Linked DNA regions of Homo sapiens: all the other regions are linked to region 4. Evidence: fine-mapped expression QTL. A gene starts in region 4. Each other region holds a variant in brackets. All regions are shown on one strand. Distances are between the middles of the regions.

Region 1 (5,079 bases), 81 kb after region 4:
TGACTGGCCTGTTTGTAACATGTCTTTCTGGATAATTTAAGTTGCCTAGTGGTTCAGTCCTATCAAAAACTACTATTTCAATATTTTTGAATGCCAACCATATGCCATTCACTGTTCTGACCAATTGTTGTATATCACTACACAAAAAGTTTCTGCCTTCCTGCACCTCAGGATCTAGAGAGAGAAGACATAATAAACTAGAAAATTATGTTACATGATCACTACGAAGCAAAAAAGACAAAGACCAAGGTTGAGAATGACTAGGAGAAAGGGAAGTAGGGGGAAGGTGTTGAATATTAGAGATGTTCAGAGTTGGTCTCCTTGACATAGTATCTAAGACTTGAAGGAGGTTAGGAACTAGCCAATTTTAGCACGTAAAATATGGCTTATTGTTACTTTTATCCTTTGAATACCATGTGCATATTGCTTAAAGAAGCAATAAAGCCATCATCATTCTTTTACTGAATGGTATGAAGCAACTTTGAGCCTACTAAAAGTGTAAAAATAGAAAACATGTTTCAACTTCTCACCCAAAAGTTCAGGATCACTTTATTCAAGTTTTAGGAGCTAAGTACTTCTAAACAGAAGTCCTAAGGGTCTTAAATACACTGCTTTTGAAAACAGAACTACTGAAATAGATGGCCCCACCGTGATGAAAACACACCAGGAGAATGACTTGTCTTTTGTTAGTCACTGTTGAAAACATGCACACCTGCACAATGGCATAGTGAAATGTCATTTGACTACTTTTAAGGGTGATAACTTCCTGTTATTTCAAACTCTGAAAATAATCTAGCCATGGGTACATATACTTAAGAAGTGCCCACAACCAGGAGGAAAAAAAAAAAAAAGGAAAAGAAAATGAGGCAGGGCCCTACACAGGGTAACCAAGCTGAGATCATCAGTCACAGCTTTTGGAACAGGGATTCTAGTATTTGTGTGTGTGGACTTTTTGTTGTTGTTGTTCAGCTACTTATCAAAGGTAAACAAAGGGGTGGGTCGCTGGGCAGTGGGCATAGGTGAGGAGGGAATTCTCCATTACTCAGACAGCCTGGACTCAGAACCACCAAAGGCAAAATGGACTTGTTTCTGAAATATTTGGTAGTTTCATGCAGCTAAAAATAACTAAAGTTAAATAAATGTTTGTAGCTTGTTTAAATCTGGCAAAGCAAAAACATCCAAAAGAAACCACAGCTAGAAATAGTTAATTACAAATTTTGTATAAGAACTAATATGAATTTATCAACTAGTTCATTTTCCAAAATGACTGAATTTGTCATTATTACAGCTGACTTGATGCTGTACCCACGGGCAGGTGGATATGCATGGCCCCCCTCCACACACCACTTCAAAATTACAACACACCTGTTCTATCTGATGGTACCAGTACCAATAGAATGCAGAATTGTAAGCTTAATAAGTGTAACACTCTCAAGACAACTGTAACTGACAAGACTTGTGTCCAAAGGGCCACTGCAGTGACCAGGGGACTGCACTGCACCACTCTGGGGGGGCTCTATTCATATTTTATAGTGATGAGGCAGTGCATGAGGCAGTGATCTTGTCTGCCTGGTTACTACTGTACATTAATCATAATTTGCTTTGTTCTTTTGCGATCTTAACTTCTGATTGCACAATACAGTAAAAAAATTTAACAATGCTTTGAAAGCACAATGCTTTGAAAGAGGAAAACAAGTCAGGGTTGGGGGAAAAATCAAGAAAAGCAGAATAGACTGCCATTCACAAGTAGAATGATTTGTCTAGTCTCCCTCCACCTGACAGGGTAAGACCCATACTGGGGAGCACTAAACCTGGATGGCACAGGCATTGTGTCTCTCTTGATGGAAGAGGCTTCAATGTTTATACTACATAGAGAGTGACCACATATTTCGTCCAATGGGGGGGGGGGGGTCATGTGACAGTGAAATAAGGAACCACTAATAAATCAATCAGGACAACCGGCATAATTCAAGACTATCTTTGGCAAACTTAAGATGTATGCTTACCCTACATATATTTGAAATCTTTCTACCGAAGTGTATGGAAGAGCTAAGGACTCACTCATCTTTGATGTTCATGTCATACTGGCCTCCCTAATCTCATTTGACACATCATTCAACCTTTATCCCCAGAGAGAAGCAAGTCAATCAGAGTAAGCCAATCTAACTAACAATCTAACTAATCTTAACATGGAACACTGGGCCAGGTTAACGAAGGGCTTCTTAAACTACTTTTAGCTCATGACAAGCCTCACAATGGCCTGACGGCACAAAGAAGCATTAAAAGCTTGACTAGCAGAAAACATGGAAGCGGCGCTGAGAAGAACTGACCTTCAGTAAAGAAGTGCCAAATCCAATCCAGCCTGCTGAGAAGTGACAGCATGCTGGCAGTCCTCAGAGCCCTCGCTTGCTCTCGGCACCTCCCCTGCCTGGGCTCCCACTTTGGTGGCATTTGAGGAGCCCTTCAGCCCCC[C/G]CACTGCACTGTGGGAGCCCCTTTCTGGGCTGGCCAAGGCTGGAGCCCACTCCCTCAGCTTGGAGGGAGGTGTGGAGGGAGAGGCACGAGCGGAACCGGGGCTGCGTGGGGCGCTTGCGCGCCAGCTGGAGTTCCGGGTGGGCGTGGACTTGGCGGGCCCCGCACTCGGAGCAGCCAGCCAGCCAGCCCTGCTGGCCCGGGGCAATGGGGGACTTAGCACCCGGGCCAGTGGCTGCGGAGGGTGTACTGGGTCCCCCAGCAGTGCTGGCCCACCGGCGCTGCGCTCGATTTCTCGCCGGGCCTTAGCTGCCTTCCCGCGGGGCAGGGCTCGGGACCTGCAGCCCGCCATGCCTGAGCCTCCCACCCACTCCATGGGCACCTGTGCGGCCCGAGCCTCCCCGACGAGCACCACCCCCTGCTCCACGGCGCCCAGTCCCATCGACCGGGAAGGAACAAACAACCCAAGGGCTGAGGAATGCGAGCGCACGGCGCGGGACTGGCAGGCAGCTCCACCTGCAGCCCCGGTGTGGGATCCACTGGGTGAAGCCAGCTGGGCTCCCGAGTCTAGTGGGAATGTGGAGAGTATATCTAGCTCAGGGATTGTAAATATACCAATCAGCACCCTGTGTTTAGCTCAAGGTTTGTGAGTGCACCAATCGACACTCTGTATCCAGCTGCTCCGGTGAGGACGTGGAGAGTCTTTATGTCTAGCTCAGGGATTGTAAATACACCAATCAGCACCCTGTGTTTAGCTCAAGGTTTGTGAATGCACCAATCGACACTCTGTATCTAGCTGCTCTGGTGGGGCCTTGGAGAACCTTTATGTCTAGCTCAGGGATTGTAAATACACCAATCGGCACTCTGTATCTAGCTCAAGGTTTGTAAACACACCAATCAGCACCCTGTGTTTAGCTCAAGGTTTGTGAATGCACCAATGGACACTCTGTATCTAGCTCCTCTGGTGGGGCCTTGGAGAACCTGTGTGTGGAAACTCTGTATCTAACTAATCTGATGGGTACGTGGAGAACCTTTGTATCTAGCTCAGGGATTGTAAATGCACCAATCAGCGCCCTGACAAAACAGGCCACTCGGCTCTACCAATCAGCAGGATGTGGTTGGGGCCAGATAAGAGAATAAAAGCAGGCAGCCCCAGCCAGCATTGGCAACCTGCTTGGGTCCCCTTCCAAAAGGTGGAAGCTTTGTTCTTTTGCTCTGCAATAAATCTTGCTACTGCTCACTCTTTGGGTCCACGCTGCTTTTATGAGCTGTAACACTCACTGGGAAGGTCTGCAGCTTCACTCCTGAAGCCAGCGAGACCACGAGCCCACCGGGAGAAACGAACAACTCCAGACGCGCTACCTTAAAAGCTGTTAACACTCACCGCGAAGGTCTACAGCTTCACTCCTGAGCCAGCGAGACCACGAACCCACCAGAAGGAAGAAACTCCGAACACATCTGAACATCAGAAGGGACAGACTCCAGACACGCCACCTTAAGAGCTGTAACACTCACCGCGAGGGTCCGCGGCTTCATTCTTGAAGTCAGTGAGACCAAAAACCCACCAATTCCGGACACACTTCCACAACAGCTGGTGTGACTTTGCCTCTGAACTTGGCTGTTATTTAAAAACTCCACTGTTTCGTAAAATCAGACAGCTTGTCGAAAATGATATGTAATGTCCTATCCAAGGACAAAATTTGTTCCTTAGGAAAATCCAGGAAGTAGGCCTACAATAAGCAAAGCCTACCTGGGAGAGACACAGCCCCTAAATTCAAACGATCTCTTTGGTTTAGCAATGGCCTACAGTCTCTTGCCCTACAGGGACTGTTTCAGATGTGTACAGAGGGTTAGGATCTGCCGCCATGTGTTTTTTGCTTTCTTTCAAATATTCATCCAGTCTCATTCCTAGGTCATGGATAAATCTGTTAGTTTCAAAATACAGTTCACATCTTAAACTCAAATATTAGCTTCCTTTTGGCTTTATCAGGGAACAGCACCTTGATATTTTTGTCATTAGGGACAAGTGTCCATTTTCAATGCCTTCATCAAAATTCCGTAATCTTACATAATTTTCTGCATGTGGTGCTGCTTGGCATGGATCTTTTATAACTTCCTACTTCCTTTTTGGTGACCTTGATATATTCCCTAACTCTCTACAGAGGTAGACATCACTTGGGGATATGACTGCAAGAGATTAGAGAGGGTTAGAGATGGGTCTTAAGGTTTTTCATGAAAGAAGTTTTCACTAATCTGTTTTCCATTCTCTCATTTAACTTGCATGCTCAAAGCCCACCCACATATTCGTTCCTGAATAACTGAACAAGACTTTCATATGGTCAGAAGACACCAAGCTTGTTCTGATGCCGGGAGCCTTGCCTAGGTGCTATTTGCTGCTTTGGGAGATGGTGGCTTCAGACTGACCAAGTTGTGATGGAGAGAGTAAGGTGTGGTTGGGACCTACAGCAAAACCTGGTGCAAAAAGCAATGACGCTCAAACTTCAGTGTGCAGCAGTCATATCAGGAGCTTGTTAAAAATTAGACACCTAACGCTGAGATTCTGAGTCAGCTAAATCTGGGAGATGGCCTAGACATCTGCATTTGTAATTA
Region 2 (5,079 bases), 33 kb after region 4:
TCTAAAAAAAAAAAAAAAAAAAAAAACTCTGTGAGGCCAACATTTGCCTTTGTATTTATTTCATTCATTCTGCTTAATTTCTTCTTCAGGCTTGACTTTTATTTTCTCATTTGTTGCTACTGCCATGCCCTAACCACACAAAACTAGACTTAATGGTGAGTCATCTGAATGATTTTGTTTCCACTTATTTCTTATTTTCCATTACATACGCCTAATTAACTGTGGCATGCAGCTAAATTAAATTTCATCATCTCTTGTCACTAAGTATGCAGAAAAGAATAATTAAAATTTTTAAAAAGAAACTTCATCTTCTCTTTTTCTGTGTCCAGATTGCATATTCTGAGGATAGAGGTCAAACTTCCTGGTGCTAATTCATATCAGGCTCTCAAATTTCACCTTGATTATCACTGGAAATTGACCATTATTTTACTTTTTTTTTTTTTTTGTCAAATTTTATGGTGGCACATGCCTGTAATCCCAGCTACTCGGGAGGCTGAGGCAGGAGAATCGCTTGAACCTGGGACGGGGAGGTTGTGGTGAGCAGAGATCATGCCATTGCACTCCAGCCTGGGCAACAAGAGCGAAACTCCGATTCAAAAGAAAAAAAGAAAAAGAAAAATTTCTTATTCTCAATACCAAGATATTTTGTTGTTATTTTCAAATTTTGATCACTGCCCTTAAACCATCTCTCTTACAGGAAGTGAGCAAAGGCCAAAAGGATAAAGATACTAAAAGGCTGTGATAAACAGAAAATGTCAAAGGCTACCCTAGAGAAATTTATAAACATTTATACCCATATACCGACCTAGTCACTAAATATCCAAACAAACAAAGCACAAGAACAGAAAACATATTATAATTTTAAATATAGATTACAAGTGTAGTGAGGTGATAATTTAAGAAATACAGAGAACATCCAAGGACTATTATTTATAATAGTCCTGAAAAGAAAGCAATTAAATGTCCATCAAAGGTAGAGTAAGTAAACTGATTGAGAGTATATCATACAAAGAAATTACATACACAAGTAAACTACAGCTGTCCACAGCAACACAGATAACTCTAATAAATACAGAATAAAACAATGCAAAAAAAGTATAGTTTCATTCTATTCACACAAATATAATTAAAATAAGCAAAAAAGCTACTAAGAATATGTGCATAAGAAGCAAGAAAATCAGAAGAATGATTAATTCTAGGAGGAAGCATTGTAATAAGGAGGATCAATGCAGGAAACACTCTGGGGTGTGGTAATATCTATCTTTACTTAACTTTTATCATTATTCATTAATCTCTACATATATGTTTTCTGTCCTTTCCTGTATGTTTGTCATATTTCAGAGGGAAAAATATTAATTGATTTATCTAATTGGTAATTTTTATTATCATAAAAGTTTATCTTAAAAAGAGTGGAGGATATACAAACGCAGTTTTGCATATTATCTCACTTGATATTAGAGGTATGACTAAAATAACATTCCATTGTAACTGTGAACTTTGAATACCTGGTTTCTCAAGTAACTCAACAATTCCCGCAACACCTAACCCTAACTACATGCTTCGGATAAGGTAAACTTAAACTAAATCAGCTTCCCCCGATGGTTGAAAGAACATTTTCTTCCTGAAATAGTATCTCTGGAGCCAGACATCATGTGGATTTGCAGGTTGCATTAACACCACCACCGGTTAAAAAGATCAGCAGGTCAAGATTTCATTTTAAAATAGTCTAAATTAGTAATATTTCTTGTCACCTAGCAGGAGAAAATACAAACTTAATTTGTAATGTTCTCTAGAACAACCCATTTCATCCCAAGCTTAATGATTTACCATGAATAAATTAGTGAGAAAGATGAGACACTCAGAGCTAGAAACAAATAAAAAACTAAGCACACAAGCAAAGTACCCGAAAAAGAACCAGTAGGAACAAAAAAGACAGAAGATACAAAATAACGGCTAGGCACGGTGGCTCACGCCTATAATCTCAGCATTTTGGGAGGCTGAGGCAGGCAGATCACCTGAGTTCAGGAGTTGGAGACCAGCCTGACCAACATGGTGAAACCCCATCTCTACTAAAAATACAAAAATTAGCTGGGTGTGGTGGCAAACGCCTGTAATCCCAGCTACTCAGGAGGCTGAGGCAGAGAATCGCTTGAACCTGGGAGGTGGAGGTTGCAGTGAGTCGAGATCACACCATTGCACTCCAGCCTGGGTGACAGAGCAACACTCCTTCTCCAAAAAAGAAAAAGATACAAAACAACCATTACCTCAATAATCAGACACATGGTATAAATTAATTATATTTACCATGGTTAAGGGAACATAAGACAAATTTGGAAATGTGTTTAGAAAACAAAAAACTCTTTAAAATACATAAATTTATGGAGTTGTAAAAGAACTAAATATAATTTTTTGAAAGACAAAATAATATATTGGATATATTTAATGTCTACTTAGACACGGATGAAGAGAGAATTAATGAATTGAATGACATTTCTGAAGTCATTTTTCAAAACACAGCCCATAGAGACAAAGAGACAGCATGAAAAAGAAATTAAACATATGGCAGTTTAGACAAACGCCTCCAGGTAGCACAATTTAATCTAATTGTGTTAAAGGGTTATATTAAAATTGTGATATACTACTGTTGAATTGAAACTTTGATTATTATTAAAAGACCCATCTTCTTACTACATTTTTCCTTAAAGTGTGTTTTGTCAGATATCAGGAGCTATGATACTTTGGTTTGATTAAT[G/A]TTTGCACTACATAAATGTTGATCTTCTATTTTCAACCATTTCACATCCTTATCTACTAGATGTAATTTTTGTAAATAACCTGTAACATTTAAAAAAAAATTTTTTTTTGAAATGGAGTTTCAATCTGTCACCCAGGCTGGAGTGCAATGGCGCGATCTCAGCTCACTACAACCTCTGCCTCCCGGGTTCAAGCGATTCTCCTGCCTCAGCCTCCTGAGTAGCTGGGATTAAAGGCATGCACCACCACCCCCAGCTAATTTTGTGTTTTGTAGAGACGAGATTTCACCACATTGGTCAGGCTGGTCTCGAACTCCTGACCTCAGATGATCCACTCACCTTGGCCTCCCAAAGTGCTGGGATTACAAGCATGAGCCACCATGCCTGGCCAACATTTAAAAATTTTTAAGAACCCATTGTGATAATTTTTAATTGTTTTTCCTGGAACATTTACAGAGTTTACCTTTACTGTTGATATGTCTGATTTTTTATAATTTACATAAATTTATGCTTTCTACTTGTCCTTGCCTGATCTTACATCTCTCCCCCACTCCACCCACCCTTATAACTTCTTTTGAATGTACGTATTTTTCTCAATCTATTTTTTCTTCTGTAATTTTTGAAATTATACTTTCATCATTTTACTACTCACTCTAGAATTTAATCCATGTATATATGAATTATTAATATCTGAAGTTGATCATCATCTTTGCACTCTTCCAAAACAACTTAAGACCCAACAATGCTCCATAGTCTGCCAATGAAATTATATGCTTTTGTTATGAAGTTTATTTCTATCCATCAAAGGAGAGGGCAGTTGACCTGTGGTTACTGTGGTGTGTATGTCTCAGAGCATACATTAGACTATAAAAGAAATTTCACATATGCACACTTTAGTCCTTTCAATGATAAAAACAAATTATGCTCATCAGAAACAGTAACACAAAAATAGAAAACCACATATGAAAAATACAAATTTAACAAGTTAATGACCAAAATATTATTACATTACAATCTTTTCAGGTCAGACATATAATCTTATTCTATTACAAACACACATATAATTATAGAATTCTTTCTACCAAAATATAAAGTTATACTATGTAATACTTTTACTTTTTTCCACTTAATGTATCATGGAAAATTATCCACATAAATACCTGAAAAGCTATCTCATCTATGTTTAATGACTGTAAAAATTTTATTATAGAAATAAGTACTAATTGTTTTCATTATTTAATTTGACAGTTATTTTACTTTTTAAAGTGAAACATCCATTGGTCATTTGAAAAATTAGATAAAGCTGTGAATAATTATGTTAGAGATTATATCGAGGGAATAGGGTTGTATGTTGTGTTCAACTGAATCATCTACAATGAGCATAAATATTTACAATCACAAAAAAGGTATTTCTGAAAATCCGTATCTGTTACAATCATTCAAATGCAATGTCATTTATTTATATTACGTTATTTAGTCTATTGTTTTCTAATTTTAAAAAAATAGCAATTAAGGCAAAGAGGAAATCTTTATGGTTAATATTTAAAATTTTATCTTTAGAAATAAAAAAGTGGTTCATCATACATAAAAGAAAAAACAAATTTAATTTGTAAGAGTACATTATCTTTAATTTTCTTAAGTCAAAAACATAGTTTACATATTAGCCTTACTGTAAACATCCTCTCTGATGTCGCAATATTAAGACTTCTGTTGCCTTGGTCCCATCTCATTCTGACCCTGTGCTCATTGGCCCTTACAATTTAATCTGAACAATGGAACCAGAGACATCAGCACTGTCCAGGCTCTCTCATGATCTTCAACCTTCGCCAGTGGCATTTCATGAAATAAATACAGGTAAAACCAGATTCTGCTGTTATTGCTAAATCATCTCTTCTTTTGATGAGAAAATAATATTAAAAATAATGAGTTCATAACCAGGTACTTTTAGAGGAGGATTTGAAAATCTTTTGTCTTTATAAATGAGTTCAGGATTTTCTAATTAGAGGGGACTTAAATCTCAGAAAATTATAGTTTGGTAAGTAAATATTTACAGTTGCACTAGGTTTAATATTATTTAGGGTAATGTTATTGACTTTTGGTGAATGTCATTGACTTTTGGTGTCTATGAGTTCTGCTTCACTTGTACTGAAGGAATACATGCAATATGTTGTGGAAGGAATTTATTTAGTGAGAATTAGATAACGGCTTTTCATGCTCCTTTCATTAGGATTAAATTCAACTATAAGAGGAGGCAGAAATAGGCATTTAAATTAATTTGAATATTTCTACTCTTGCTTCTATTTCCAATTTTACTGCAGATGCTAATGCC
Region 3 (5,079 bases), 54 kb after region 4:
AGTAAAACTAAAAATTTGAAAATTAGTTAGAATGTAAACAACACTTTTAAATAACCAATGAGTCAAAGAAAAAATACAAGGGAAATTAGAAAATATCTTAAAGCTAATGAAAATAAAAACACAACATACCAAAACATACGGGATGCAACAAAAGTAGTGCTTAGAGGCAAATTTATATCTTTAAATACATTGGAAAGAACATCTTAAACCAACAACCTAACTTCATCCCTTAAGTAACTAGAAAAAGGAAAATAAATTAAACCCAACGCCAGCCAAATGAACAATAAATACTAGAAGGTATGTACATAAAATAGAGTGGAAAATAGAGAAAATAAACAAAGCCAAAAGTTGGACCTTAGAAAAGATTAACAATATTAGTAAACCTTTAGCTACAATGAATAATTTTTAAAAGTCCTCAAATTACTAGTAGATATAAGACACTGCAGTTTAGCTCTTTGAGGAATCTCCGTACTGCTTTCCACAAGGGTTGAACTAATTTACACCCCCACTAACAGTATATAAATATTCCCTTTTCTCTGCATCCTCACCAGCATCTATTATTTTTTGACTTTTTAATAATAGGCATTCTGACTGATGTGAGACAGTGTCTCATTGTGGTTTTGATTTGCATTTTTCTAATGATCAGCGATGTTGAGCTTTTTTCATGTGCTTGTAGGCCACAAGTATGTCTTCTTTTGAGAAGTGCCTGTTCATGTCCTTTGCCTACTTTTCTTTTTTTTTTTTAATTTATTTATTTTTGAGACTGATCTCGCTCTGTTGCCTAGGCTGGAGTGCGGTAGCGCAATCTCAGCTCACTGCAATCTCCGCCTCCTGGGTTCAAGTGATTCTCCTGCCTCAGCCTCCAGAGTAGCTGGGATTACAGGCAGGCGCCACCACGCTTGGCTAATTTTTCCTTGTATTTTTACATGAGACAGGGTTTCACCATGTTGACCAGGCTGGTCTCAAACTCCTAACCTCAGGTGATCCACCAGCCTCAGTCTCTCAAAGTGCTGGGATTACAGGTGTGAGCCACCACGCCCAGCCTTTTGCCTACTTTTTAATGGGGTTGTTTGTTTTTCTCTGGTAGATTTGTTTAAGTTCCTTCGAGATGCTGGATATACATTAGTCCTTTGTCAGGTGCATAGTTTGCAAATATTTTCTCCCAGTCTGTACATTGTCTGTTTACTCTGTTGATAGGTTTTTTTTTTTTTTTTTTTTTGAGACGGAGTGTGGCTCTGTCGCCCAGCCTGGAGTGCAGTGGCGCGATCTCGGCTCACTGCAAGCAAGCTCCGCCTCCCGGGTTCACGCCATTCACCTGCCTCAGCCTCCAGAGTAGCTGGGACTACAGGCGCCCTCCACCGCGCCCTGCTAATTTTTTGTATTTTTAGTAGAGACGGGGTTTCACCACGTTACCCAGAATGGTCTCGAGCTCCTGACCTCGTGATCCACCCGTCTCGGCCTCCCAAAGTGCTGGGATTACAGGCGTGAGCCACCATGCCCTGCCCTCTGTGGATAGTTTCTTTTGCTGTCCAGAAGCTCTTAAGTTTCATTAGATCCCACTTGTCAATTTTTGCTTTTGTTGCGATTGCTTTTGGTGTCTTTGTCACGAAATCTTTGCCCATTCCTGTCTGTGTCCAAGATGGTATTGCCTAGGTTGTTTTCCAGCGTTTTTATAGTTTTAGACAGAACTACCATTCAATTCAACAATCCCATTACTGGGTATATACCCAGAAGAATATAAATCCTTCTACCACGAAGACACATGCATGTGAATGATAACTGCAGCACTTGTCGCAATAGCAAAGACTTGAATTCAACCTAAGTGCCCATCAATCACAGATTGAATAAAGAAAATGTGGTACATATACACCATGGAATACTGTGCAGCCATGAAAAAAGAATGAAATCCTGCCTTTTACAGGAACATGGATGGAGCTGGGGGCTACTATCCTTAGCAAACTAATGAAGAAACAAAACTAAACACCTCATGATCTCATTTATAAGTGGGAGCTAAATGATAAGAACTTATGAACACAGAAAAGGAAATCACAGACACCATGGTCTACTCAAGGGGATAGGGTGAGAGAAGGGAGAGGAGCAGAAAAGGTATCTATTGGGTACTGGGTATAATGCCTGAGTGATGAAATAATCTGTACAACAAACCCCCATGACACATGTTTACCCATGTAACAAACCTTCACAGGTAGCCCCAAACCTAAAA[T/C]AAAAGTTAGAAAAAAAAGACACTGTGAAAGAAAAGATGCCCGAATCCGAAGACATTGCAATGAAAACTAAACAAAATGAAACACATTAAAGAGCATTTAAAAAGTGTATGAACGGAGTATCAGTGACCTGCGGGACAGCTGCAAGGGGCCCAACGTACGCCTAAAAGCAGTCTCTGGATACATAGGAGGGGGCAAAAAGTATTCAAAGAACTTACAGTTGAAAACTGAGATTTAAATACTGAAATTGAAATGTTTCCAAATTGCTAGAACTATAAGCATATAGATCTAGAAAGTCCACGAACCCCAAGCAAAAGAAACATAAGAAAATCTACTTACATGTACATTATAATTAAGTTCTTCAAAACTAGTGATAAAAAAATATTAAAAGCATTAGATAAGAAATGTTTTATGCAGAGGATTGTCAAACTTTGTTTATTAAAAGTTAAATTATTCATCTTTTTTTTTTTTTTTTTTACAACTGCCCACTGACTCACTCAGGACAGCAAAGCCAGTAATGCTATGTTCAATCAAGCATTCTAGGCCCAAGTCACAACTCACACCACTGCACTCCCAACCCTGGTTCATTCCCTTTTGTGTACACACAGCTGCGATAGTTTTACTCCCTACCACCCCCACCATTCTTCTTCAGTGTCATGTCTTGGTTCACTTGAATCACCTTCCTCTGAAAGTTATTCCTCTTTCTCAAAGATGAAGTCTTCATGTTCATATACATTCTCAAGACACATCCTCTCATGGAATCTACTGTCTTCCCTGTAATGGTCATTCATTTAGTGCCCTTGCTTGTTTAAGACAACTAATGATTCTATACAATCATGAATTCAAATCTTAAGTAACATGAGGGAAGAAGAACTAACTTCTTATAACTTGAGAATGTGGTGGGGTTTGTTTGTTTGTTTGTTTTTTGGAGACAAGTTCTCATTTTGTTGCTCAGGCTGGAGTACAGTAGCGCAATCACAGCTCACTGCAGCCTCAACCTCCAAGGCTTGAGTGATTCTTCCACCTCAGCTTCCCAAGCAGCTGGGACTACAGGTGCACATCGCCACGCCCAGCTAAGTTTTGTATTATTTATAGAAAATACGTAATACACCTGCACATCACCACACACAGCTAATTTTTGTATTATTTATAGAACATACATTTATAGAACATAAATATGTTGCTGAAGCTGGTCTCAAAATCCTGAGTTCAAGGGATTCACCTACATCAGCCTCCCAAAGTGCTGGGATTATAGGTGTAAACCACCATACCTGGCCTAGTGTCTTTTCAATGACAAAAACAAGAGTAAGATTATCCACTTCAATAAGCAAAAAGCAGTAATTTAATTTGATGTGATTTTTAAGAAAATCTTTGTTTCCTCTGAGGAACTGGTATGTTGTCTCTCCAGAATTCAGGAGAAATGTGTAATTGACCAGACCAGAGGTCCCCAAGCCCCAGGCCACAGACCGGTACTGTGGCCTGTTAGGAACCTGGAGCACAGCAGGAGGTGAACAGGGAATGAGTGAGCAAAGCTTCACCTATATTTACAACCACTCCCCATTGCTGGCATTACCACCAGAGCTCTGCTTCCTGTCAGGTCCGCAGAGGCATTTGATTCTCATAGGAGCACAAACCCTGTTGTGAACTGCACATGCGAGGGATCTAGGTTGTGTGCTTCTTATGAGAATCCAATACCTGATGATCTGTCACTGTCTCCCGTCACCCCCAGATGGGACTATCTAGTTGCACAAAAATAAGCTCAGGGCTCCCACTGATTCTACATTACGGTGAGTTGTAGAATTATTTCATTATATATTACAATGTAATAATAATAGAAATAAAGTGCACAATAAATGTAACGCACTTGAACCATCCCAAACCATCCCCCTCTTGCTCCCATCCATAGAAAAATTATCTTTCATGAAACCGGTCCCTGGGGCCAAAAAGTTTGGGGACCACTGGACCAGACCATTCCTTTTTGTGTTTGCCAAAGAAATAGCATAAAAGGGCTGGGCATGGTGGCTCATACCTGTAATCCCAGCACTTTAGGAGGCTAAGACCGGAGGATTACCTGAGGTCAGGAGTTTGAGACCAGCCTGGACAACATGGTGAAGCCCTATCTCTACTAAAAATACAAAAACTAGCCCGGCTTGGTGGTGCTTGCCTGTAATCGCAGCTACTCGGGAGGCCAAGGCAGGAGAATTGCTTGAACCTGGGAGGCGGAGGTTGCAGTAAGCCAGGATCGCACCACTGCACTCCAGCCTGGGCAACAGAGTGAGACCCCATCTCAAAAAGAAAATAGTATAATAACAAATAATCACTCACTGTCCCAAACTCCAGAGTGAAAGGTTAGTATGTTAACATCTGTAGTTAATGCTAGTGAGGCAACATATGTTAGCTCCAGTTTATGGAACTTCAGAAATCCCGATTACAAAATTATGACTACATTAAATAAGTCGTTGATAATGATGGTAAATGAACGAAACATGGCACTTGCGGCTGCTTTCAATTATCCTTTCCTTAACCAGAAAACATGCTCTTAAATACCTGAGACTTTCTCCTGGTCTGGATCTTCTCTAGCTTCACAGACCCAAGACCCTTTATATTACCTTAATACGCTATCCATTTTTAAAGTATTATGTGACTTTGAAACCACTTCGTACTGACTTGCCTCAACATATAATGGAAGTTAATAATCAAAGGGGTGTTGCAAATGTAAATTTTAAAATGTGTTTAAAAGGTAACTGATAAATTAATACCCAAGTTTTATCTAGGTCAAGCAGAAAACTTTGGGACAAATACAAAAATTAGCCTGGCATGGTGGCGGGAGCCTGTAGTCCCAGCTGCTCTGGAGGCTGAG
Region 4 (5,079 bases):
ACACATTCAGTGTAATTTAATCATTTTTACATTAGATTGAGCAATGTAAAATGAGACTATCCTACACTGGTAGGCAAATTTCTATTACTAAGTATAATATTCCATCATGCCTCTCTGTGTGAAAAACAAGAAACTGCCTATTTAATCTTTTACCAATGCTAAGTTTTCCAAAAAATGTGACCTACCTTTCTGGAGTTCTATGTTGGGTCCTGGAGTAAATGCTGGCTCAATACTCAGTTTAGTAAAAGCTATAAGAAATGATTAGAAATTTGTTTAATTAGGTATGGGTTTATGAAATACTAAAATATTACACATTAGCAAGATGAAGCCTTTATTATTAAATGATGTCTTCACAGTTTTGATTTTTATGGAGACTTGCTTAGAAAAACTTACAATTTTTCAACAAAATTCCCAACGTAGACATCAACGAAAGGCATATTATCCCTAAGGTCCCAGAAATTAACCTCCACAGAGTGGTCTTAAACACTGTAGAGAAAGACAGACAGAGTAATGACTTAAAGAGCAAACTCAGGAGCTGAGTTCTTAAAAGCAGAAACTAGTGACGGAGAATCCACAACATTCTTTCATTTGATAACGGAGTCATCTTGCCAATAAAACACTGAAGACTTTCCAATCGGGACTTCACCCAATACCAACATTTTTATGTGATGTATCTTATTCTTCAGGAAGATTATTCAAACATTTTCTTCTCTACCAGCTCTGTTGCAGTAAAGTGAATTTACCATTTATTTTAAATTGGCAGAGGTGCTTAAAGATCTGGAGGTAGAAGATATTAACAAGCACCACGTTGTGTTTTATGGACTTACATAACAGGCATTTATTTTTATTCTCTCAACAAAATCACAAGATAGATAGTATGGTTCTCATTACATAGATGAGAAAACATAAGGTCCAATAATAATGTTATTTTCTCAAGGTATCAAAGCAAGTAAGTATCCAAGTCAGAAATCACATGAAAGTGTGTCTAGCTCAAGAATCTTTCATTCAACGTAGTCTACCATTGTCACAATAATACTAGTTGAGAGTATGCCCTCTCCTCATCTCAGTGCAGGTTTTGCTCTGATAAATGTCTAGCTGCTCATTGGTTCGTAGAGATATTATAGGGAAAAGAAGACATAGGAACATTCTGGACTTGGTGTGATAACTGATAACAAATTGATGGGTAACAACTTTGAGGCCTGGCTTCATTTCACAGTATATTGAACATACATAAACAATCCTTTTTCCCCTAGAACATTCCATTTGTTCATACTCAAAATTACTTGCTTTTAGGCCTTTCACCTAAAACATTTCAACATTAGGAGATTCTGTGCTAACGTGAACACACTCTCAAAGAGTGATGTCATTAACAACAGTACAATGTGTCAAACTGTTCATTTGTGTAATTTTTGGATGTCACAACATAAATAGTCAATTAAAACCTTTTCAGCATTGTGTCATTAATATTTGGCATTTTCTATTGCTATACTAGAACACTGTTGCTCACAATTTAACCAGGCTAAAGTTCAGTTCTCACTCAGAATTTAAAGGTAGCCCTGTCAGAAACCACTCTTCAAACCTGTGGAAAAAACTTCATGAAATCATGTCTAAGTTATACAATGAAGAATCAGGAAAATATAATGAATGTGGAAAGTGCTAATGCATGAAAATCCTAAAAACATCCACTGTTAATCATGTCCTTTTCTCTTAAAGCATTACCCCAAAATCAGCCAATCCAAGAAATAGCTTTTCTGGTTATTTTTAATTTAGTGACTGAAATCACACATACCTGCCATGAGAAATTATGTTCCAAGAGCGAAGTAGAGAAGGCACGATGTGTACTTTTTCAGAAAGAACAGCGTTGAATTGTTGAAGCTGAGCTGGAGATTAAAGAATCTGAAAGTTGAGTATGAAGAAATTTAGCAAAAATAGAGAATGAAAAATTGTGTATTTAAATGATGTTCTTGAATCATCTATTGGTGAGACATGTATTATAGTGTGAATAAGAAGCAGTAGAATCACAAGCCTCTGAAGTGTTCCAGGAACCACAATACAGGAAATTCTCACAGTACTTTTGCAATATTAACACTTTGGCAAGGACTAAAGAAGGTGAGAGGAGGTCAGAGGGAGTTTTGTTGCTGTTTTGTTTTTTATTGTTTGAAAATCAAATTCATTTTAAAGGGTTATCTGGAAAATGAAGGAAATGATGGGCAAACCAAAGGTAAATTTACTTAGCATAACAAAATTACTTACAGAATTTTCCTCTTTTAATAATAAACATTTATTATTTACCTTGTACTTAACACAATTTAAAGCACTTGGCATATCTTAGCTCATTTATTTCTGTAAATGGCTTGATAGTAAAGATATATAAATATCTTCAATCTATCAAAGAGAAAACTGAGGCATACAGAGCTAAGTAATTTGCCCAAGGTCACATAAATTGGGATTTCCATGTCTCACTCTGTTCTTCTGATCTCTACCTAATTATCCTGGCCACGACAGGCAAAGTTCAAAAAAGTAGAACTGGATGGGTTTCCCACTTGGACGCCTCATTCACGTTAGCCTTAAAAGCTTTTTTCAACACCTCAATTTTCATTTTCTTAAAGTTCTTTAAGCACGACTTCAGCTTCTTTATTTTCCTTATTTTTACTAATACATTATTATATTGTTTAGTGTGTTATCTAATTCAGATACTATACTGATACTTCGATATACACTTTTTCATCTACAGAAGAGTAACCTTGTTAATAGGAATATCAAATGTGGAACAGGTCAAATTTCCAATGTGGAAGAGATTGGCTATAATAAGAATCTTGAAAGGAGAGATTTCGATCCATGATTTAGTATCTGGAAATACAATCTACCATGCACCCCCATACAAAAGCAGACACTCAAATAAACGTTTTGTGTATTATATTTTGTATATTGTTTATGTTCAAGCATTATAATATTACTATAGATAAACCCTTTTGTAAAAGATGGGCTTTCAACCAACAACAGAAAAAAATGAAAGAAAAGACTACTTTGACTTCTCAGTTTTTATGAAGTCAAAACTTTCCATCTTTTCAGTTTGCATTGTGTGCCTAGAGCTGCTTTCATTGCACCAACAAATTTGTTGAGCTATAAATCCTCACTGAAGAATATAAGCGTAAAATCTACTTCATCCAGACTGTATGCAAATCTTAGTTGAAGTGATTTATTTAAAAATCCTTTGCTTACTTGAAATCTATTCATTTTTAGTGTTAGAAAAAGCTGGTCTGGAAGAAACCTGTCTGATACTATTTTTCCCCCATGTAAAATTGCCTCAAAATATAGGAGATTAGGGGTTTGCTTTTAGTTTTTCTCTTGAGAGAGTACAAATTTATGACAGAATGTGCAATAGGGATTATTACTACACTTTCATTACTAACACAACCACCTTTATTTGGAAGTTAGAGGTTCTAAGTTTTTAGAACCCTGTTTGGTGAGAATACGTCCATCAGTCATTGTCCTTTTTTTCATCTTAGTTCACTGACTTAGAAATAAAAATCCAACAAATACAAGTTTACTTCAAGAACTCCAGGCTTAAATATTTAAGATACCTAAACACACACACACACACACACATACACACACACAGTAAACATATATGTATATACCTCTTTAACTCTTTCTGAGCTGCCAACTCTGATTGTTCTTTTTTTGTTTGTTTTTGTTTGTTTGTTTTTTGAGATGGAGTCTCTGTCACCCAGGCTGGAGTGCAGTGGCTCACTCGGCTCACTGCAAGCTCCGCCTCCCGTGTTCACGCCATTCTCCTGCCTCGGCCTACCGAGTAGCTGGGGCTACAGGCTCCCGCCACCACGCCCAGCTAATTTTTTGTATTTTTTTTTTTTAGTAGAGACGGGGTTTCACCGTGTTAGCCAGGATTGTCTCGATCTCCTGACCTCGTGATCCGCCCGCCTCGGCCTCCCAAAGTGCTGGGATTACAGGCGTGAGCCACCGTGCCCGGCCTCTGTTCTTTCTATTTATTTTTGTACGTAGACAGGTGAATGATTTCCATGTACTGTATCTCTCCCACTCATCTCCACTTGTTCCTGAAGTTATCATTGCCTCGCCTATGTCCCTTGGAATATTTGGGGAACTATGGCCAACTAGTTATCTGTATAGCTGTATCTATGGGTTCTTTTTTTCTCCAATAACTGCTGAAAGCCTTGCTGTTCTCAGACATGCTAATCCGGAAGTGCTGAATAATCATCACCAGAATGGGCGTCAACAAACGAATCTTGTGATTTGCTATACAGTCCAGCAGTCTCAGCCCTAAAGTCAGGTAATTCTGAACATTGTGTTTTGCCCAGTTCCCAGAATTACTCAATAGTGTTATGTTCCAGTCACCTCCTCTAGAAGCTAGATTAAGAAAATAACCTTTATTGCGTTCCACTTTCCCTTTCCTATTACATTTCCTTTCCTACATTTATTGCATACACAATTCCAAATAAAGTTTCTACTCAAAGTATTCTCTGAGTGTGCTGCCGAGAGAAACCAGACTAAATTCCGCTGAAATATCCAGCTTCACTTACATAAATTTGCTTTTGAAAAGTTAGGTATCCTGCCAAAAGAACGTCTCTCTTTGCAGGACTTTCCATCCCCTAGTATCCATTGCAGGAAGATGCCCTCTTCCTCCCCTGCAATTTACTAGTGCCCTTGGTAAGAGCAAGTGATGACTTCAATAGCTAAGTCAACTTTTAAACCTTAGTCAAAAGCCAGGGAAAAGAAACTAATGTTCACTTAACATATAAACAGTGAAGTCTTTTCCCTACCTAAAAATGTATAACTAAAATGTTGCAGAACAAAATAACAGTATACGTTCTAGTATCCCCAAGGGAAAAATTTATTTTGATCTCACTGCTTTTAGAAAATGCATTCTTTGAGCGGAAAGAAAATTGCTCACATCAGGCTGCAAATTATTCTTTTAACAGAGAGAGAGGGCTCCCTGAGAAAAAACAAAAGACGTTACTGACCTGGTAAAATCTCATTGTAAACATGCTAATAACAAACCTACTAGCTATAGTGGTTTCTTATATATAGTGTGTTTTGCTT
Region 5 (5,079 bases), 46 kb after region 4:
TGACATTTATTTCCATGAGTCTAGCAATGCATCTGGTACTCAAGCTGGAATAACATGGTTCAGATAACTTAAAATCATGGGGACATGAGTTTGTACAGGACTAAACTGAAACTTTGTGGGTAAAATATTATAAGATTTTGTTATTGGACAGGGATCAGATCTGATCTCAGTAAAGCAGAAATGCAGACAGATTTCTTCTACAATTCATGTCAAGTCTCCCAAATCTTTTATACGTGACCACGGACCATTAAGACTAAAATTAATTCAAATTAGGGATATTCATTCTTATTTTAAAAATTCAAATTGTGCCATCTCTAGTGCCAGATTCATAAAAATATTATAGAACACATCAATGCAAAATCATGTAGTTTAAAGATTTCATATATGAAGGTAGTTAAAAATATAACTGGTTAGAAAAAGTACAATTGTGTAAATGGTACAATTTTGTATAATTTTAATGTTAATGAATTAGAATTTTAGCATATAAATAGTTCATAGCCTCTGAAGATGATTGAAAGTGTACCATTATTCAAGGTATGCTTTGGGGGTGTTTACTCTGGAGGCAATTTGTGGAAAATACTGGAAAGTGAAAATTAGAGAGAGTTTGTATAATATTAAAATAGCTCAGCATAAAAATAATGACAATCTGAGTAGGAAAAAGCTATGTTACTGTGAAGAAGGAAACAGATATATGAAGCATTGTCGTGATAAACAGTACTTTGTGACTGATTAGACGTACACTACGTCTAAGGTGTTTGCTGCAAAAATAGCATAGGTTGTTTTTTCCTGACTGCCTGGGTTAACTAACTGCTTAGAATAACATCAATCATATATACAAACATGTGCTTATTAAATCACCAGTCATTGACTCATAAATATATTTCATAAGTAAAAGTTCATACCTTAATATAAATTGCAAATGATAATTTACAATTTGTTCTTCATTCAATTAAAACAATGAATGCATAAATTGTGTGTAAGAAATTTTGGATATCTGTTTTATTTGCCATCCCAAATGTTTGAAAATGATAATAGTATTCTCTTTTGCAAATATTGTGAATTTCAGTTCATTGTCTTAAAGAGATCCTGAATAAGGCAACCATTGAGACTGCACATTGCAACATAATATCACAAAACAAAGGTAAGTATTGGTTTACAATGGGAATGTTGGTATCTATCACACATAAGCTGTTTAAATCTAGATGTATTTTGTAAATATATGTAAATATGTATTAGGTAAATATTCACTTTGTAAATATAAGACCAAAGTTAGTTAACAATGGTGTACTTGTCAGAAAAACTCTCGTATATCAGGACTTCTCTTGAAGTTAGGGAGGACAATTGAAAACAATAATGCAAAAATTATAATTCACTGAATGACTGTAGGGGACAAAGTTATCTTCTAGCATGTTCTTTTTGTTTGTCAAGGTAATTGGTCTTCCTTTGAAGAAAACTGACATTTTATATCTACTGAAAATAAAATCTTGGCATCAAGGAAATTTGTTCTGAAGCATTGAGCTCCAGTCCCATCAAGACCAATAATGAAGAATTGGAAGTGTATAATGTGGTATTCATTCTTACATTTTCTTACACATCAGATAATTATCAATAGAGAATTTTTAACATATTGTGTTCACTTAAGCATGCTAAACTCAACATTTTATAAATTGGAGACATCTCAATCAAACTCAAAAGATTAAAATATGACCTTAAAATGATTTTAGATTTTAAATATATTTGCATACAGAAGTAAATGCAAATATAAGAAATTTCAAATGTTGGCTAACAATGGGGGAAAACATCACATAGACACAGAAACTAAAGGGAATCTGGTCACAAGTGGCAACTAAAAAAGAGCTAATATTTGTTGATTGCTTCAAATATTCCTGGTACTACATCAATGATTGTGGGCATTAACTCACGTGTTTTCCCATTAATCTTATGATACAAGTATTACCACTGCCATTGTTGTATTAATAAGAAAACCAAGACCCAGAGAGAATGATACTTTTTTTCTGGGTATCAGAAATAGTAAGAATTAGAAGCTTAAACTATGATTTAAGCTAAAAGAGTCTAACTCTAAAGATCAGGAACATAGTCATTATGCTTTGCTGATCCCAGAACAAAAAATCATAATGAATCAAATTGTAAGAATATTGCTTCTTTGTAAATAGTCAGAGCTGCTTATACAAGCAGATTTACGTTTTTCTACCCTGCATGTATCTTCTAAAGAGGAACAGTGAGAAAAAGAATAATAGCTCTTCATAAGGACTATTTTGATACTAATTATTGTTTGGAATGTGAATAAAAGACATTAACAGCAGTAATGTTTCC[C/T]GCAGTAGATCCTAGCAAGCCTAAAGAATATAGATGTCTTTTATATTTTAGTTCTCCTCTACTATGTGACTATTACTTCTATATTATTTCTTCTTTTTCATTGTATTGAAGTTCTGTTATTGCCTTTAATAAAGACTTCAATTCAGATCAATGATGGTAAATTTATGGCATATATGCTGAAAATTTCCATACAGTATTCTTAGAAGGTGCTCTTCATAATTGCAACATCCTTCCCTACTGAGCCAGACTTCACTTTGAATAACTTTCAACAGAGCACACCAGAAAGTCTCTTCCAATTGCATTACTCTCATCTCATCTACATACGGTGCTTCAAAGTGAACTTGTATATACACATCAGCAATGAGCTCTTTCAGCAAGAGCAAACAAAAAATGCACATAAAGAGCAATGAATTTGCTAAGGCAATTGCTCCTAATGGTCTATTACCTCAAAAAAATTTTTTTTTTTTGGTTTTTTGTTGTTGTTGTTTTTTGTGATGGAGTCTCACTCTGTGTCCCAGGCTGGAGTGCAGTAGCATGATCTCAGCTCACTGCAAGCTCCACCTCCCGGGTTCATGCCATTCTCCTGCCTCAGCCTCCCGAGTAGCTGGGACTACAGGTGCCCACCACCACACCCGGCTAATTTTTTTGTATTTTTTAGTAGAGACGGGGTTTCACCATATTAGCCAGGAAGGTCTCGATCTCCTGACCTTGTGATCTGCCCACCTCGGCCTCCCAAAGTGCTCGGATTACAGGCGTGAGCCACCACGCCCAGCCCAATTTTTTTTTGTATTTTTAGTAGAGACGGGGTTTCATCATGTTGGTCAGGCTGGTCTTGAATTCCTGACCTCGTGACCCACCCACCTCGGCCTCCCAAAGTGCTGGGATTACAAGCGTGAGCCACTGTGCCTGGCCTAAAATTTGTTTTTATAAATCACAATTTCCCCATAACCTAGAGTAGAAGAGATAATATCTGAATTTTCCACAACTGATAGAAAATATCAAACTACATACTATCAAAGGCTTATGAACTCCAGCAGGGTGAATAAAATGACAAGTTAGGTGTATCATATATAACTGTTGAAAAAAAAAGACAAACAGAAACTTACAGGTAGGAAGAGAAGCAAAGTTTACTTTCAAAGGAGCAACAATTATAATGGAAGCTAACCTACAAAAAGAAAAAGAAAATGAAGGCTATATGATTATTGATTGACAACAACTGCCATACTAAAATTCTATCCTCAGAGGCAATCATCTCATCAGATGGGAATGATATGAGCATTTAGTTATACAGATGGGAATGATATGAGCATTTAGTTATACAGATGGGAATGATATGAGCATCTAGTTATACTCCATAGGTAAAAGAAAGACCATTTAAGTAGAGCAAAAACAATTTATTATATCTTTATATCTGTATTAAGAAAGTACACTAGAAGAATATCTTTTTTTTGTTTTGTTTGTTTTGTTTTGATGGAGTCTCACTCTGTCGCCCAGGCTAGAGTGCAGTAGCATGAATTTGGCTCACTGCAACCTCCACCTCCTGGGTTCAAGCAAGTCTCCTGCCTCAGCCTCCCAAGTATCTGGGATTACAGGCATGTGCCAAAACGCCTGGCTAATTTTTGTATTTCTAGTAAAGACAGGGTTTCACCATGTTGGCCAGGCTGATCTCAAACTCCCAACTTCACGTGATCCGTCTGCCTCAACCTCCCAAAGTGCTGGGATTACAGGCTTGAGCCACCATGCCCAGCCCACAATATTCTTTGGGTTTAAGAAAATGATCTCAGATGAGACCTCAAAGACTCAGGATAAAAGACAATGAAATAGGTAAATACAGATGTAAGTCTAAATGAATAGCAATTATATGAAACCATAAATAATGTCCACTACTTTAATTGCATAAAACTAAAGTTTACTACAGTACATACACTTACATTAAAGAGTTGCATTTTAACTCAAAAGAATAATAAATAGAACTAAAAAGCTCTAAATTTCTTATAATGGCTAGGAAAATGTAAAGTAACTACATATATTGGACATTAATAAGTCAAGGATGAATATTATGACTTTCAGAAAATGACCAAAATAATAACAAAATATTCTACATAACTATGATGATGATGGAGGAATGCATCTTAAAAATGGAACAACAATAATGTGATGGAGTAATTGTCAATCACTAGAACAATATTTAATTAAGCCAATAAGAAGAATTGCATATTAGAATAATTCTTAGAATTTTACACTGAAGGCTGTGGGCATTCTAGCCAGAACTATCTACTGTGTCTTTAGTGGATATTCAGGAGGCCATGGGTTACTCAGGGTGGATATTACAGAACAGAATAAATGCTTTTGATCTCAAAAGTAGAAGCATCCCCAGGTACCTCGGAATCACAGTTTCCTAGTGTTTCTCTTTCCCATCAACTAAGTCTTGCTTGCAGACTAATTCTATTTATCTCTGCTCATTGCTCCTTTTGCTACAAATGATCTAAGTTTCTTTGGCTTCTTCGTAGGTCTTACAGATTCCCTTTTCCCAAGGTTTGGTGTATATATCTAGAGTTTGGGAAAGCATAAATATATATTTTTTCAACCTCTTTTTCTAATGAAAGATAGCCATATGCATTTGTGTGAAGAAGTCATATTAAGAGTCTCATTTTCATATTGTTCTTCACTCTCTATTTCTTTCAGTGACAAGTGAAGACATGAATTAAACATTCAAGGTCCATTTAGTTCTATTTCCTCCCCCTG
Region 6 (5,079 bases), 21 kb after region 4:
TCTAGAGAGTCATTTTGCATAACTGTAAGAAAATTATATTTTATTTTGCCTCGATTGTGCTGGGAATTTTTAGTTTTTGTTCAAATTTAGATAGATAAATTGCCACAGATATATTGAATGTAGGTTTATTATATAATAATTACAACATATTTACATAATGTATACATATGCATATATATGCATGCACACGTACTTGACTATGTACTGACTGATCTTTCTTTTTTTTTTTTTTTGAGACGGAGTCTCGCTCTGTTGTCCAGACTGGAGTGCAGTGGCGCAATATCGGCTCACTGTAACCTCCACCTCCTGGGTTCCAGCGATTCTCCTCCATCAGCCTCCTGAGTAGCTGGGATTACAGGCACGCACCACCATGCCTGGCTAATTTTTGTACTTTTTTTTTTTTTTTTTGAGACAGAGTCTCGCTCTGTCGCCCAGACTGGAGTGCAGTGGTGCGATCTCGGCTCACTGCAAGCTCTGCCTCCCAGGTTCACGCCATTCTCCTGCCTCAGCCTCCTGAGTAGCTGGGACTACAGGCGCCCGCCACCACGCCCGGCTAATTTTTTGTATTTTAGTAGAGACAGGGTTTCACCATGTTAGCCAGAATGGTCTCGATCTCCTGACCTCATGATCCGCCTGCCTCGGCCTCCCAAAGTGCTGGGATTACAGGCATGAGCCACTGCGCCTGGCCTGATCTTTCTTACAGAGGTAAAAATCCGTATTTAGACAGATAATTAAACTAAGTTATCCCCGTAGTTTTGTATAACCTAGGGGTGGTTTTTAAAGTCCTAGCAAATTTTTAGTTACATATTTTATTTCCTCGTTTCTCCATTTCATGCTTCTGTCTTCTAAGAAGCATAATTTAATTCGTAAAAGTATCTGTTTATATATAACAATATCTATTTATAGGTTTTATAATACTTCAGTATATAAATAATTCACTTGAAAAGGATGTTGGCACCAAAATGGATGGTCTTTTTTAAAACTTAGAATTTATTTGGATTTGTTTGAAGTTAGGTTTCATGGGAGGAAATGCTCTCATTATTTGTATAACATTTTTTTGCAACCTATCTGTGAGAGGTCTGAGTGTTAAATAAAAAAAAATTCGGAGTTATTTGTATATATGCATGTATTTGTGTATGAAACAAATACCAGCAAATACTTATTGACTATACCAATCTCATACATACCCTTGCATTCTCCCATGGCTGTCTAACTTCAAACCTGTGCCTTACAATGCATATCCATCTTTGCTTTTAGGTACAGTTTCACCACGGTTTTTAATCATCAAAAAAACACAAACAGATAAACAATAAAAAAAAAGAGGGTTTTGTTTTTGTTTTGAGACAGAGTCTCACTCTGTCACCCAGGCTGGAGTGCAGTGGTACAATCTCAGCTCACTGCAACCTCTGCCTCCCGGGTTCAAGCGATTCTCCTGCCTCAGCCTCCTGAGTAGCTGGGACTACAGGCGCACCACCACGCCCGTCTAATTGTTGTATTCTTAGTAGAAATGGGGTTTTGCCACATTGGCCAGGCTGGTCTCGAACTCATGACCTCAGGTGATCCCCCTGCCTCGCCTCCCAGAGTGCTGGGATTACAGGTGTGAGCCACTGCACCTGGTGCCCAGTGAGGTTCTTTATAAGAACAAAACTGAATGTAAACAGTTACGGGACCAGATGCGGTGGCTCATGCCTGTAATTCCAACACTTTGGGAGGCCAAGATGGGAGCATGACTTGATCTCAGGAGTTTGGGACCAGCCTGGGCAACAAAGTGAGATCCCGTCTCTATAAAAAAAAAAAAAAAAAAAAAAAAAAAGCACCATAAGCGAAATAAAATGATGATTCAAAGACTATTTTGCATTCAAAACTAATTTCTAATCAATCCTTATCAGGTAATTATTCTTTCTGCTTCTTCAATCTGCTAAATACAAGATGTCAAAAGTGAGTAGTTTCAAATGTTTGATTCTGCTTTTGGTAGATCGTAAACTTGAGTAGGTTACATAACCCCTTTAAGATTCTTTTCCATCATGTGTAAAACGTAAAATGCAACTAAATAGTTTATTGGAAATATGTTCTGAGAATGGTTTAATGTATAAACATATAGGGTATTTAACACCTAATTAGTGCTCAAAACCATTAAGAAACATATTGAGGTAGATAGGACATAAGCTATTCATTATTAGTTACAGTGAGTTTGCAGACTGAACTTTAAGCTTTCACGGAAATCTCCGGACTCTGATATGACCCTGGACCCCTGTGAGACCTCAGTCATCAGTACACTTTATGTGTAACAGGTGTGGCTGACACATCACACCGTATGGTACAGAATGTTTCCAACCACAGAGTTGCTGCTGCCTAAAATAACAGTTAACACCTACACTGGTCTTGGTGTGGCCGCAGGATGTTGGGGATAAAGTGG[A/G]TGGGTAATGGGTAGAGGAAATGGCGTGTCTGGCGAAAACAGTAAGATGCTGTTGCAAACAATATTGGGAGTTGAAGCAATTTACCTGGGCAAAAAGCAGAAGACACAGCTTAAGGAGGAGAGAAGAGACCAGAACTGAGGTTTACAAGCATGGATGTGGCTGATCACTAGCACTGTAGCTGCGCTATTTTTGTTATTCCAGCAAGTGTAAACATAGGAAACATTACTAAACTTAGAGCTGTGACAATATTTACCTGTTAAGAGAAGAGGAGGGAATAGGAAAGAGTCAATCACAAAGAAAAAATAACATAAGAATCATAAAGCATTGACTGGACTGTAAATACTAGTCATATTTTCTATGAGATGATTTTTAACTGGAATTTTCTTCGGATAATGTGCTTAGAGATAGCGTGTTTTGTAGGTGGAAATAATGGGCAGGTAAAGACACACAAAAAAAACAACTTTAAGGTACCATGAAGAAAGATGTTAAATAAAACCATGTGAAAAATTATCCTGGTGACTATTGATACACAAAGGACTTATTTCATATTGGAAGCTTAAAGAAAGGAATGGTTTGTCCCTGAGTTATTTCAGAACCCTTATCATGACAGAATGGTGACTGTAACAGGAATTTTTCAGACTAGACATAAAGATGGTTCACATGAGAGGAAAAGAAAACTAGCATATGGCAAAAATAATTTCTAGAATAAACGTGACTTGACTGGCTGTGGTTTTACAGACTGTTTTTAAAAGAAGGAACCCATTTTTATCAGTCACACGACTCTCTACTTAAATTTCAATTTTAGCAACAACACAATCTAAAGGTAAGAATTTATTTTATAAATAGTAGTAAAGAATTTTGAAAATACAGAAATGATATTTTACTCCAGGTTAATATGCAACATTGCTAGCATGGTACACTGGCAACATCAGTAGAGCCAGATAATGAAGAGAAATCTCACAGGAATAGGGCATAGATTGTTCTTTTATATATAGTTCTCTCACCATACATCTAAAAACTTTTAAGTGGAAACTAAATGATGTGTAGGATACAGAGACCCTAATTTCTTTTTTTTTTGAGATGGAGTTTCGCTCTTGTTGCCCAGGCTGGAGTGCAATGGCACGATCTGGGCTCACCGCAACCTCCGCCTCCCAGGTTCAAGCAATTCTCCTGCCTCAGCCTCCTGAGTAGCTGGGATTACAGGCATGCACCACCATGCCCGGCTAATTTTGTATTTTTAGTAGAGACGGGATTTCTCCACGTTGAGGCTGGTCTCGAACTTCTGACCTCAGGTGATCTGCCCGCCTTGGCCTCCCAAAGTGCTGGGATTACAGGTGTGAGCCACTGTGCCTGGCCCAGAGACCCTAATTTCTTATCTGAAATTTGTGGAGAGAAATGTACTTTAAAATTTATTAGTTTTTATTTTAAAATATATGTGTTTATACATACATGAATTAACAGCCTCATTGGCATTTGATGATTCACGCTATAACCCAGCACATTAATATTTCCACAGCAAAATGTATAAAACAAAAACTATGATTAGCTAAGTTCAGGTTTTGGAACCAAACTAATGAAAACATTTTGTTTACAGAGATTTGGTTTTTAGCCTTATGGATAAAGAACTGGGGACTTATCTCCTGTGTCAGTATGTGGATTAAATTATACTCAATTCTTTGTTCAAAACACCTATTCCCCACTTACTGAGCCCCTCCACATGTGGTTTCATACTGATAATTTATCTGAGTGATTTTACACACATGTTATAGTAAACCTATGTATAGATTGGACAAGGTAAGTTGAATCTCTTCACAGAATATTGTGTTAACAAGTCTTTTGTTGTTGTTGTTGTTGTTGTTACTGTTGTTTTTTGAGAGAGAGTTTTACTCTTGTCACCCAGGCTGGAGTGCACTGGTGCGATCTGGGCTCACTGCAACCTCCACCTCCCAGTTCAGGTGATTCTCCTGCCTCAGCCTCCTGAGTAGCTGGGATTACAAGCGCCCACCACCATGCCCAGCTATTTTTTTTTTTTTTTTTGTATTTTTAATAGAGATGAGATTTCACCATGTTGGCCAGGCTGGTCTTGAACTCCTGACCTCAGGTGATCCGCCCACCTCGGCCTCCCAAAGTGTTGGGATTACAGGCATGAGCCACCATGCCCAGCCAACAAGTCTTACTTTTGATTGAGTATGAGAAGTATCTCTCCCAAAATATAATGGTTCTATGCATTGATAGATTTGGTTTCTTCCACTCTGTCAGTCACTTTTCTCTTTGTCCTCCCTGGTTTTCCCCTGTTCTGCTTGTTTCTTGGGGTGCTGATTCCTGCAACACATGTTTCACCACCTCCATGGCTAACCAGCTTCCAGGTAGGTGGAGTCAATGGAGCCACTGGGTTGAGATTTGGAAGGTAGGAAGAGGGGAGAAGCCTGTTATTTTGTCTTTCCCCTCTCTGCTTCAGGCTTTATCTCCTGCAGTGACCACACATGCTATGTACTGGTCTGTTTTATTTAATTTTAATATTTATTTTATTGTGATAGGAATACACCATGAGATCTACTCTATTAACAAATTTTGAAATGTACAATACAATATTGTTAAGTCTAGGCACAATGTTGTACAGCAGATCTCTAGAGCTTACTCATTTTGCATTACTAAAACCTTA

Evidence for each region. PIP is the estimated chance that this variant, and not a neighbour inherited with it, causes the effect. A credible set is the group of variants that fine-mapping cannot tell apart.
Region 1: its variant is the best candidate, but not a certain one, in a credible set for the expression of KLRD1 in atrial appendage (GTEx, PIP 0.89).
Region 2: its variant is the best candidate, but not a certain one, in a credible set for the expression of KLRD1 in tibial nerve (GTEx, PIP 0.79).
Region 3: its variant is the best candidate, but not a certain one, in a credible set for the expression of KLRD1 in left ventricle (GTEx, PIP 0.57).
Region 5: its variant is the best candidate, but not a certain one, in a credible set for the expression of KLRD1 in visceral fat (GTEx, PIP 0.57).
Region 6: its variant is the best candidate, but not a certain one, in a credible set for the expression of KLRD1 in whole blood (INTERVAL, PIP 0.59).

The regions. Positions count from the first base shown.
Region 1 is chr12:10,223,485-10,228,563 of GRCh38, reverse strand. No RefSeq gene overlaps it. Among named protein-coding and RNA genes, the nearest start is that of GABARAPL1-AS1, 11 kb to the right of the region's middle. The variant C/G (reference allele first, on the strand shown) is at 2,473.
Region 2 is chr12:10,272,062-10,277,140 of GRCh38, reverse strand. LOC124902875 reads left to right here and starts at 4,479. Exons shown (of 5, transcript XM_047429945.1): 1 at 4,479-4,604. The coding sequence starts at 4,523. It also overlaps a transcript of KLRD1 not described here. The variant G/A (reference allele first, on the strand shown) is at 2,753.
Region 3 is chr12:10,250,572-10,255,650 of GRCh38, reverse strand. It overlaps a transcript of KLRD1 not described here. Among named protein-coding and RNA genes, the nearest start is that of GABARAPL1-AS1, 38 kb to the right of the region's middle. The variant T/C (reference allele first, on the strand shown) is at 2,222.
Region 4 is chr12:10,304,795-10,309,873 of GRCh38, reverse strand. KLRD1 (killer cell lectin like receptor D1) reads right to left here and starts at 2,004. Exons shown (of 6, transcript NM_002262.5): 1 at 1,790-2,004; 2 at 394-486; 3 at 186-248. The coding sequence starts at 1,796.
Region 5 is chr12:10,258,688-10,263,766 of GRCh38, reverse strand. It overlaps LOC124902875, which reads left to right. Exons shown (of 5, transcript XM_047429945.1): 4 at 1,067-1,141; 5 at 1,429-2,659. The coding sequence ends at 1,457. It also overlaps a transcript of KLRD1 not described here. Among named protein-coding and RNA genes, the nearest start is that of GABARAPL1-AS1, 46 kb to the right of the region's middle. The variant C/T (reference allele first, on the strand shown) is at 2,335.
Region 6 is chr12:10,283,397-10,288,475 of GRCh38, reverse strand. All of the region lies in intron 1 of LOC105369656 (a long non-coding RNA gene), which reads left to right. It also overlaps a transcript of KLRD1 not described here. Among named protein-coding and RNA genes, the nearest start is that of KLRD1, 22 kb to the left of the region's middle. The variant A/G (reference allele first, on the strand shown) is at 2,417.